Homo sapiens: one gene and its partners. The protein of the gene in region 3 purifies or fractionates together with the protein of the main gene of each other region. This does not show direct contact. Each region holds a gene or a part of one and is shown on either strand. Other genes may lie near its edges. The genes, in order: DYM, SLC25A35 and GCGR.

Region 1 (3,647 bases), on a different chromosome or scaffold from region 3:
CGCCTGCAAAGTCTCTTTTCCCAGCAACATAATCAGAGCTTCCATGGATTAGTATGTGGACATCTTTGGAGGCTATTATTCTACCTACCACAGTGTATTTTGGAATATTTTGCCGAGACTTAAGAAAGTAGGTGATTTCTTTTGCTGCTGTACATGCAACGAGAGGGCCGTCTTTTACTTAGGATTGTAGATAATGGGAATGGTTAGATCTAGAGAAGACTGTTCATTTTTCCTTTTAGTGAAATATGGGAAATACCTGTGACACTTGTAGTATAGGCTTTGGTAAAATGAGACCTTTAAAAATGATTTAAGTATAAAAGCAATACAGCTCCATGTAAAGTTTTTCTATATTTCGTTTTGGTCTCTTTTTCATATTCATGTCTTAAAACATAGTATATATGTGTAATCAGAGGGCTAACCTGATACTTGACACAGGACACGCTGGGGGCAATGATGGTTCCCATGCCCAGGATGAGAAGGCAGGGACTCTCTGTCCAAGTGGGAGATAAAGGCACCCCCATTTCAGCAGCAAAAGAAGACTCCTAATGAAAGTGAGAGAATATCTTCAGGCAGAATGAACTACTGTGAGATTTGGACTTGAAGCAGCCTCTTCTCAGGTTCTTCTGTGACTCAGCTGGGAATGGTAGAGTGCTGTGAGCCTAGAAGAGCAGAGTGATAAGATGCCCATTGCTGCTTTTCCTTTCTTCGGACAGAGAGAGGACTAATCTTAAAGATTGAAAGGATTTCTGGGAGTCCTCCAGTTTGGTATCCTGTTTCCTAGTGGGTTTCACTTTCCTACTTAGCTGTCAAAGTCCTTACTGTCTCTAGGTGTGAAGGTTCTGGCTTTCTGGTGGTGGTGCACCATTTATCAGGAAATGTGATGGGACTTATTAAATATCTGCTCTTGCCTTTAAGCATTTTTTTTTCTAGTAAGGTTTTTAGCAGAGCTTTATGCTTTGAACTTTGCTTGTAAACAGTTTGTAAGTTATCCTCACATTACTTAATTCTAGACAAAATGAACTAGTGGGGCTGGGAACAACTTTACATATAGGTCTTATTTAGTAAAAGTTTTTGTTTTTTTCATTTCTTAAGGAAGTTTGGTTAGTGATTTTGGTATCTTCTCTGATTTTTATCACATTCTTTAAAAATGCAGGCAATGAAAGTGGCTGAAACTTTCCAATAAGGACATTGGAATAATTATTTTTAAAAAGCTTATCTTTTCTTTTATTGCTCAGTCTTTTGGGCATTTAAAACCTTTTGTCCATCATATGATCGATGACAAATTTCTTTGTTAGGTTGAGTCAGTCACTGAATCTTGACAATTATTCCTTCAAAATATGTCATGCAACCCTCCACCCAGAATACTTTGAAAACCCTACCTGTATCAGTTAGGCTTAGGTTTGGCTATGAATAACAGAGACCTGAAAAATAATAGCTTAAACATATGACTAGTTTGTTTCTTTTGTAAAAGAAGTCCAGAGGTGGACGATTAAAGGCTGGTTTGGCAGCTCTGCTGTCATCAGGAACCCAGCCTCCTTGTAGTTTCTTACACTGTTAACCCTAAAGTATGGCCCTTGATTTCTGGGTCCAAGATGGCTGCTGGAGTTCTAGCTAAAATTTCCATGTTCCTAACAGCAGGATGGAGGAAGGGATAAAGAAGTGACTGTCCACTCTTAGAGACTTAAATATATCTTAGTTGAACAGGAATATGCCTGGTCAAAAAAATGGAGTTCTGTTACTAAAAGGAAGAGAGGACTGGAGATTGGGTAGGGAATTAGCATTTTTTGCTTTTTTTTTTTTGAGACAGTCTGACTCTGTTGCTCAGGCTGGAGTGCAGTGGTGGGATCTCGGCTCACTGCAACCTCTGCCTCCCAGGTTCAAGTGATTCTCCTGCCTCAGCCTCCTGAATAGCTGGGATTACAGGCATGCGCCACCATGCCCGGCTAATTTTTGTACTGTTTTTAGTAGAGTTTTCACCATTTTGCCCAGGCTGTCTCGAACTCCTGACCTCAGGTGATCCACCCACCTCGGCCTCCCAAAGTGCTGGGATTACAGACAGGAGCCACTGCGCCTGGCCTCTGCTCCTTTATAATTAATTTCTCTGAACCCAGACTAACCTACATACTTTTTGAAACTCTAGGTTTGAGTCCTAGTTCTATCATTTATTTGCTTTGGCATGTTACTCAACCTTTTTGAACTTCAGTTTTCTTATCTGTATAATGGGACTAATATATACTTTATATGTTTGTTAGAGAATTAAATGAAAATACCTCTATGTACCTAGCAATATATACACTATAACTATTAGTTGTTTTTCATTCTCTTCCTTTAGATTTCTCGACTTGGATATCTGAATGAGTGGTGTAAAAAGATGAGAATTAGAGATGGACAAGGAGAAGGATGTATATTCAGTTCAGTATTGAGCATGTGGAGTTTGAGGTGCCCTTGGGACATCAGATGGTGATAGATGTTAGGCAGTTAGATAAACGGGACTGACACTCAAAAGACAGTTCTGACTAGACATAGATATTTTGGATTGTAAGTGTATAGGGGTAGAATTCATCAATCTGGAAGTCTTAGGGAGGATGTATGCAGTTGTACGGTTACTATGTGCGGAGTAAGAAGGCATGCCCTTTAGTGAGTCTCTCTGTAAAGCGTCAAGCCTCAGCTTACTTTCTGGCCTTTTCTTTATTATTTTTATTTTTTTGTGGGTTAAGGAGTGGAAAGTCTAATAGAAGAAAGGAGAGAGGAGAGCAGCTCCTTGAGAGAGAGAGAGAGAGGTCCAAAAAAGGAGGAGGCCATGGACCGCAGCAGATTTTTTTTTTTTTTTTTTTTTTTTGAGACAGAGTCTCGCTCTATCACCCAGGCTGGAGTGCAGTGGCGCGATCTCGGCTCACTGCAAACTCTGCCTCCTGGGTCTACGCCATTCTCCTGCCTCAGCCTCCTGAGTAGCTGGGACTACAGGCGCCGGCCACAATGCCTGGCTAATTTTTTTTTTTTTTGGTATTTTTAGTAGAGACGGGGTTTCACTGTGTTAGCCAGGATGGTCTCGATCTCCTGACCTCGTGATCCACCGGCCTCGGCCTCCCAAAGTGTTGGGATTACAGGCCTGAGCCACCGCACCCGGCCTGCAGCAGATTTTTATATGGAGAAGGCAGTGTCTGATTTACATAGGGCTCACAGATTGGTTCGATCATGCATGACGTCTACAGAGTGTGTGGGGAAGGCTGGTTGCCTCAACCTAATCTTATGCAAATGGGCTTTCCAGTTGATTGGCACCATCCTGTCTGCTCCTTTACAGTACATGTGGCTGGCAGAGAAGGGAAGATGGAGCCGCCATTTTGAAAATGTCTAGTCCTTAGTTTCTGCAGGCATTATCGTGTGCAAGCTCCCAGCTTGCAGGCTGCTCTTTGTTAGAAAATGATTTGGGGCTGCTTTTCATTAAAAAGAACAGCCTTACTGAGGACTCCCATGCCCTTGCTATCTGCCTAAGTAATTCCTTGTTAACTCCTATATCATCATTCCCTGCTCTGGAGTGGCAACCCTAACTGCTGTTAGGGGGTGTTGGGTGATGACTCTTTCTGGCTACTTCCTGCTGAAAAGGGGCATCATGTGGGGATCAGCAGCTAGGGCTCCTCCTGGGGTCA
Region 2 (3,747 bases), about 74 Mb from region 3:
GCCTCAGCCTCCCGAGTAGCTGGGATTACAGGTGCCTGCCACCACACCCGGCTAATTTTTGTAGTTTTAGCAGAGACAGGGTTTCACAATGTTGGCCAGGCTGGTCTCAAACTCCTGACCTCATGTGATCTGCCTGCCTCTGCCTCCCAAAGTGCTGGGATTACAGGCGTGAGCCACCACGCCTGGCCTCATCTTTGTATTTGGATTCAGAACTCATTTTGGTGGTGGCAAGACAACTGGCTTTGGCATGATTTATGATTCACTGGATTATGCAAAGAAAAATAAACCCAAATGCTGACTTCCAAGACATGGCCTGGATGAGAAGAAAAGAACTCAAGAAAGCAATGAAAGGAACACAAGACCAGAATGAAGAAAGGGGGACTGCAAAGGACAGTGTTGGTGTGGCAAAAAGCCAAAGGAGTAAAGATGCTACAGTAACATCTGTGGCCACTGTGGATTTTTCACAAGATTTATAAACTAAAAACTTTTGTGTGCAAAAAAAAATGGATGGGGGTATGCTAAAGAGACACAGGAGCCAACGGAAACAGCTCTCAAAGGCCAAAGCTAGAACGAAATTAGCTAGAAAATAAATATGAAGTATATTGGATTATAACCCAAAGTATAAATGTCCATGAGTCCATACTGATTAAATAAATGGTTGAATAAATAATGGAGGAGTAGAGACAAATATCTCATATGAAAGAACTCCAGGCCAGGGATGGTGGCTCACGCCTGTAATCCCAGCACTTTGGGAGGCTGAGGCGGGTGGATCACGAGGTCAGGAGATCGAGACCATCCTGGCTAACACGGTGGTCTCTATTAAAAATACAAAAAATAAGCCGGGCGTGGTGGCGGGCACCTGTAGTCCCAGCTACTTGGGAGGCTGAGGCAGGAGAATGGCGTGAACCCGGGAGGCGGAGCTCTCAGTGAGCTAAGATCGCGCCACTGCACTCCAGCCTGGGCGACAGAGCGAGACTCCGTCTCAAAAAAAATAAAAAATAAAAATAAAGAGCCTAAGGACTAAGGATTTAATTAACCAAGCACCAACCCGTGCAGCCTCAGGAGACTGGTCCCGCAGCGCAAGTGTGTCCCTCTACCCCCCGCAAGCCGGGCCGCGTCTTCCTGGCTCTCCTGGCGCCGGCACCGAGCAGGGCGTGGACCTGAACTTATGTGACCCCACCCGGTCACAACCCGGGGTAGGAAGCTAAAGCCGTCCGCCCACCCGAGGGGCGGTCCCAGCACCCCAGTGGGGGACTGCTGCGCTCGGCCTCTGTGTTCGATCGGGAACCCAGGTCTCTTCCCTGCCAATAACAAAACCGCCGCGTCCCGGGCCTCCCTTCCGGAGCCGGAGTCGGCGGCCGAGCGCTGGTGGCGGAGCCTGGACAGTTAATTCCAACCGCCTCCGGGTGATTCCGGGGACAGGAGCGCCGAGAGCTCCTCCCTTTGGCCGCGGAGCCGGCTCGGCGCTGATTGGCTGAGGGCCTCGGTTGTGGCTCTTGAAGGCTCCCCATTGGCCCCGCGCTCCAGTGGCAGGAGTGTGGCGGCCCGGCCTCCGCAGGCTACCCGGGGTTGAAGCTACTGCGAGCTCCGGTGGCTGCCTGGGGACGCTCAGGGACGCTCATTCCTGGCCAGAGTCCTGACTTCTTTCTCGGATCGAGATCTCGTTGCTGGCTCGAGGAAATCACCGGCTCTTCTCCCGGATCCTTTTCTTCTCTCACTTGCTGGCTTTCTTCTTCCTGCCTCCCTGGCTTCCATCTCCCAACCCCGCGATTCCCTCCTCTACTCCCGTGCTCCCGTCGCCCGCCATCCTGAGCCATCCCACCTGCAACCTTCTGTCTTTTGCCCCTCCTTGACCTCAGAGGGTCCTGCCTTAAGCTTCTCACCAGAATCTCCTAGATTTCTATCTCTTCCCTGCTTGCCAGCTCTTGACTCCCAAATTCCAGCTGACGTTTGACCACTTGACATTTGACCCTGACACCCTTGACTGCAAATCTAAATTCTTATCTTCTGCAACCTGTACTGCTGAAACAGGCCTTCCCCCTGTCTTCCAACCCCGCTTTCTGACACCCATTTTTACTTTCTTACTCTTGGGTCAGTTCCTGCTACAGCTATCCCACCATGGACTTCTTGATGAGTGGCCTGGCAGCCTGCGGGGCCTGTGTATTCACCAATCCCCTGGAGGTGGTGAAGACCAGGATGCAGTTGCAAGGAGAACTGCAGGCCCCTGGCACATACCAGCGGCACTACCGAAATGTCTTCCATGCCTTCATCACCATCGGCAAGGTGGATGGCCTTGCTGCCCTGCAGAAAGGCCTGGCCCCCGCCCTCTTGTACCAGTTCCTGATGAATGGCATCCGACTGGGCACCTATGGGCTGGCTGAGGCTGGGGGCTACCTGCACACAGCCGAAGGCACCCACAGTCCTGCCCGCAGCGCAGCAGCTGGGGCCATGGCTGGGGTCATGGGAGCCTACTTGGGGAGCCCCATCTACATGGTAAGAAGAGGGCTCTTGCCTGGGACCTTCAGGGCAGATCCTCGTTGTAGGATAGGAGCTGTTCTTTCCCAAGGGCATAGGTGGCAGAGTGCTGCCCCACTGCAAGCAGGGAAAGGCATCAGGAAAGTGCTGGTAGGCTTCGGAGTCTTCTGATCTGCCCTATACACACCCATCTGATGGACACGATTGAATGTATTGATTAAGATTATGGGCTTTGGGGCCGGGTGCAGTGGTTCACACCTGTAATCCCAGCACTTTGGGAGGCCAAGGCGGGCGGATCACGAGGTCAGGAGATGGAGACCATCCTGGCTAACACAGTGAAACCCCGTCTCTACTAAAAATACAAAAAATTAGCCGGGTGCGGTGGTGGGCGCCTGTAGTCCCAGCTACTCGGGAGGCTGAGGCAGGAGAATGGCATGAACCCGGGAGGCGGAGCTTGCAGTGAGCCGAGATCCGGTCACTGCACTCCAGCCTGGGCCACAGAGCAAGGCTACGTCTCACAAAAAAAAAAAAAAAAGATTATGGGCTTTGGAATCAGACTTTCTGGAACTAAAATCCTGGCTTTGAAAATTACTAGTTGTTGGCCGGGCGCGGTGGCTCACGCCAGTAATCCCAGCACTTTGGGAGGCCGAGGCGGGCGGATCACGAGGTCAGGAGATGGAGACCATCCTGGCTAACACGGTGAAACCCCGTCTCTACTAAAAATACAAAAAATTAGCCGGGCGTGGTGGTGGGCGCCTGTAGTCCCAGCTACTCCGGAGGCTGAGGCAGGAGAATGGCCTAAACCCAGGAGGCGGAGCTTGCAGTGAGCTGAGATCCGGCCACTGCACTCCAGCCTGGGCCAGAGAGAGAGACTCCGTCTCAAAAAAAAAAAAAAAAAGAAAAGAAAGAAAATTACTAGTTGTTGAGCTTCAGTTGCCACATCTGTAAAATGGTGATAATTATAGTGCCCTTTCTGTGTGATTATTGGGAGGATCGAGGGAGACAAATGCGGTAGACATGAAAGCATTAGTGCGAATCCTGGCAGACAGTAAGCATTTGGTAGCATTTGTTTTTATTATTATGTGTTGATATTGAGGTTGGATTTGTGAAGGGGAGGATAAGGAATTTAACATACGTCAGAGAGTCTAGGGATCAGGAAGGCCCTGGGCATCACAGAATTAACAATCTCAACATCTGCCCCTTTGAGTTATCTGGTATAGGTGAAGGGTCAAGAGCCTGAGGCCCAGAAAGGGGAAGTGACCCACTCAAGGT
Region 3 (3,647 bases):
GTTTGGGGCACATTTGAGATGGGGGGTCTCCAAGGGAAGGTGTCCTGCAGAGCTGCAATTCAGGGCTGGGCTGGGCGTGCTAGCGGAGGCTGGTCCAGGGGAGGTGGATGGTCAGGTGAGGAAGGTGGAGGTCAGATGGGGGAGGTGGAGGTCAAGTGGGGGAGGGAGCAGCCCAGGCCATGTCCTGGGCGAGGTGACGGCCGAGCTCAGGCTTCCAGAGAGAGGAGAGAGGCCTGCTGAGGGAGCCCCTTCTCCCACCCTGCCCTGCCCTGCTCTGCCCTGCCCTACCCTACCCTGCAGAGCTGGTGTGCAACAGAACCTTCGACAAGTATTCCTGCTGGCCGGACACCCCCGCCAATACCACGGCCAACATCTCCTGCCCCTGGTACCTGCCTTGGCACCACAAAGGTACCCATAGAGGGGAGGAACTGTGGGGGGGGCGGGCCCAGGGTGGGGCTGACCCCAGCCTCCCCCCACACCCCCAGTGCAACACCGCTTCGTGTTCAAGAGATGCGGGCCCGACGGTCAGTGGGTGCGTGGACCCCGGGGGCAGCCTTGGCGTGATGCCTCCCAGTGCCAGATGGATGGCGAGGAGATTGAGGTCCAGGTCAGTGGGCGGCAGGCAGGCGCGGTGGGGCTGGATGGGAACGGGCATGGGGGCCCCTGCCTGGCCCTCACAGGCCACTGTAACTCGCAGAAGGAGGTGGCCAAGATGTACAGCAGCTTCCAGGTGATGTACACAGTGGGCTACAGCCTGTCCCTGGGGGCCCTGCTCCTCGCCTTGGCCATCCTGGGGGGCCTCAGGTAGGATTCCGCCAGCGCCCGGGGCGGCCGCAGAGGACAGGGAGGAGGACGGGCGCTGACTGGCTGTGCCCACAGCAAGCTGCACTGCACCCGCAATGCCATCCACGCGAATCTGTTTGCGTCCTTCGTGCTGAAAGCCAGCTCCGTGCTGGTCATTGATGGGCTGCTCAGGACCCGCTACAGCCAGAAAATTGGCGACGACCTCAGTGTCAGCACCTGGCTCAGTGATGGAGTGAGCCCCCCTCGGCGGCCCCAGGCAGGTGGGTGGGTGGGCAGCCAGGCAGGTGGCCACGTAGCCGCGCTCACACTGCACCTGTACCAGGCGGTGGCTGGCTGCCGTGTGGCCGCGGTGTTCATGCAATATGGCATCGTGGCCAACTACTGCTGGCTGCTGGTGGAGGGCCTGTACCTGCACAACCTGCTGGGCCTGGCCACCCTCCCCGAGAGGAGCTTCTTCAGCCTCTACCTGGGCATCGGCTGGGGTGAGTGGGCTGGCATGAGAGGGGGTTAAGGCAGGCTGACCAAGCCTTTGGGACCACAGCTGCTGCCCCCCACAGGTGCCCCCATGCTGTTCGTCGTCCCCTGGGCAGTGGTCAAGTGTCTGTTCGAGAACGTCCAGTGAGTATGAGCGGCTGGACAGCCTGGGGAGGGACCGGGGGGCTGGGGTGCGGCGCTCTGGCCTGAGGCAGGGAGGGGCCGGGGATGAGCCTGGTGCCTGGGGAGGGGGTCATTTGTGACCTTCTCCCTTCCTTTTCTGAGACCCGAATTAGATCCTGGCAAAATCGGGACGGGGGTGCTGAGGGGCGGAGGGGCTGGGGGCTGTGCCCCAGTATGTGAGTGGCCTGGCCTCGCAGGTGCTGGACCAGCAATGACAACATGGGCTTCTGGTGGATCCTGCGGTTCCCCGTCTTCCTGGCCATCCTGGTGAGGAAATGAAGAGCCAGGAGCGCACCCCAGGCCCCTCCTCCCTTGGCGTCCTGAGGCTGCCCCAGGAGACAGCAGCATCCTGTCTGAGAGCGCTGGGAGGGAGCCGGCACCCAGACAGGACACCAGGACACTGGCCAGCACCCTGGACACTGAGCCAGGCTGTTCCTCCCTGGCTGTGTGCCCACCAGCCCCAGGGCTATGTGGCCCAGGGCCTATCTTGCTGCCAGGCCCACCTGCAGGAGGGTCAGGTGGGGCCTTCCAAGGGCACAGAGCTGTTCCCTGGGGCTCGGGATGCCCCTGACTCGCACCCTTCTCACACAGATCAACTTCTTCATCTTCGTCCGCATCGTTCAGCTGCTCGTGGCCAAGCTGCGGGCACGGCAGATGCACCACACAGACTACAAGTTCCGGTGGGTGCCGCGGCAGCTGGCGTCTCGAGACCTGGAGACCCTCAGGGCCAGAGGGCAGCTGGGGGTGGGGACTCCAAGCTCCACGTGGATGGTGCGGGCCGAGGGTGGGGGCGGTGGGTGACTCAGGCGCTGCCTCTGCAGGCTGGCCAAGTCCACGCTGACCCTCATCCCTCTGCTGGGCGTCCACGAAGTGGTCTTCGCCTTCGTGACGGACGAGCACGCCCAGGGCACCCTGCGCTCCGCCAAGCTCTTCTTCGACCTCTTCCTCAGCTCCTTCCAGGTGCCCGCCCGCCCGCCGGCTCCCCCGCCCGGGGCGCAGTGTGCCACCCCTGACCACCCTGTCTCTCCAGGGCCTGCTGGTGGCTGTCCTCTACTGCTTCCTCAACAAGGAGGTAGGTGGGAGTGGGGGCATCTGAGACCATCAGCACTGGCCGTCGGGGTCAGGGGCAGAGAGAGGCACAGGGATGCCAGCCCCACCCCTGCCCGGGGGTTGGAACACGTGGGGCCCAAGCCTTTCCCTCCCCCTGCTCTTATTGGGTGCAGTTGCCATGGCGCTGGGTGTCAGGCCCCCAGGACAGGTTGGCCTCAGCCCCATCGCTACGGTGTCCACCGTGGGGGTCCCCAGGTGTCTGCAGACTGCTTTCCGTGGCGATGCTGGGTGGCATAGCTGTGCCCAGCAGGGAGCTTGTGTCGCTCTGCACCCCTCAGAGCGGAGACTGGGCATCTCCGATGAGGCCCACAGCAGGTCCCGGTGGGGTGGAGAGGACAGGCAGGCCCTAGGACTGGCCTGCCCCGTCCCCCTCCCCAGGTGCAGTCGGAGCTGCGGCGGCGTTGGCACCGCTGGCGCCTGGGCAAAGTGCTATGGGAGGAGCGGAACACCAGCAACCACAGGGCCTCATCTTCGCCCGGCCACGGCCCTCCCAGCAAGGAGCTGCAGTTTGGGAGGGGTGGTGGCAGCCAGGATTCATCTGCGGAGACCCCCTTGGCTGGTGGCCTCCCTAGATTGGCTGAGAGCCCCTTCTGAACCCTGCTGGGACCCCAGCTAGGGCTGGACTCTGGCACCCAGAGGGCGTCGCTGGACAACCCAGAACTGGACGCCCAGCTGAGGCTGGGGGCGGGGGAGCCAACAGCAGCCCCCACCTACCCCCCACCCCCAGTGTGGCTGTCTGCGAGATTGGGCCTCCTCTCCCTGCACCTGCCTTGTCCCTGGTGCAGAGGTGAGCAGAGGAGTCCAGGGCGGGAGTGGGGGCTGTGCCGTGAACTGCGTGCCAGTGTCCCCACGTATGTCGGCACGTCCCATGTGCATGGAAATGTCCTCCAACAATAAAGAGCTCAAGTGGTCACCGTGCATGTCCTGGAAAGCAGGGCTGGAAATGCTGGGGCCGAAGCAGTGGGGGATGGAACAGCGGTGGGTGGTCAGCGCCAGTGCGGGCTGTTGAAGGGTCCCCCTGCTGTCCCAGTTCACTCAGAGTTGGCACTGGAACCCCGGAGGATCCCGAAGGCAGC

What was found.
Region 1: the proteins of GCGR (region 3) and DYM purify together in Homo sapiens (affinity purification with mass spectrometry; one large-scale study listed by BioGRID and IntAct). This does not show direct contact.
Region 2: the proteins of GCGR (region 3) and SLC25A35 purify together in Homo sapiens (affinity purification with mass spectrometry; one large-scale study listed by BioGRID and IntAct). This does not show direct contact.

Annotation. Positions count from the first base shown.
Region 1 is NC_000018.10:49,454,100-49,457,746, reverse strand, and holds part of DYM (dymeclin), read left to right. Parts: intron 1-3,647. UniProt on the Homo sapiens protein: Necessary for correct organization of Golgi apparatus. Involved in bone development.
Region 2 is NC_000017.11:8,293,179-8,296,925, reverse strand, and holds the start of SLC25A35 (solute carrier family 25 member 35), read left to right. Parts: upstream 1-1,525; 5' UTR 1,526-2,118; coding exon 2,119-2,493; intron 2,494-3,747. UniProt on the Homo sapiens protein: Putative antiporter that exchanges dicarboxylates and sulfur oxoanions across the inner membrane of mitochondria.
Region 3 is NC_000017.11:81,810,525-81,814,171, forward strand, and holds the end of GCGR (glucagon receptor precursor), read left to right. Parts: intron 1-300; coding exon 301-408; intron 409-485; coding exon 486-607; intron 608-697; coding exon 698-804; intron 805-879; coding exon 880-1,036; intron 1,037-1,126; coding exon 1,127-1,286; intron 1,287-1,361; coding exon 1,362-1,422; intron 1,423-1,658; coding exon 1,659-1,728; intron 1,729-2,052; coding exon 2,053-2,141; intron 2,142-2,282; coding exon 2,283-2,421; intron 2,422-2,491; coding exon 2,492-2,533; intron 2,534-2,949; coding exon 2,950-3,165; 3' UTR 3,166-3,484; downstream 3,485-3,647.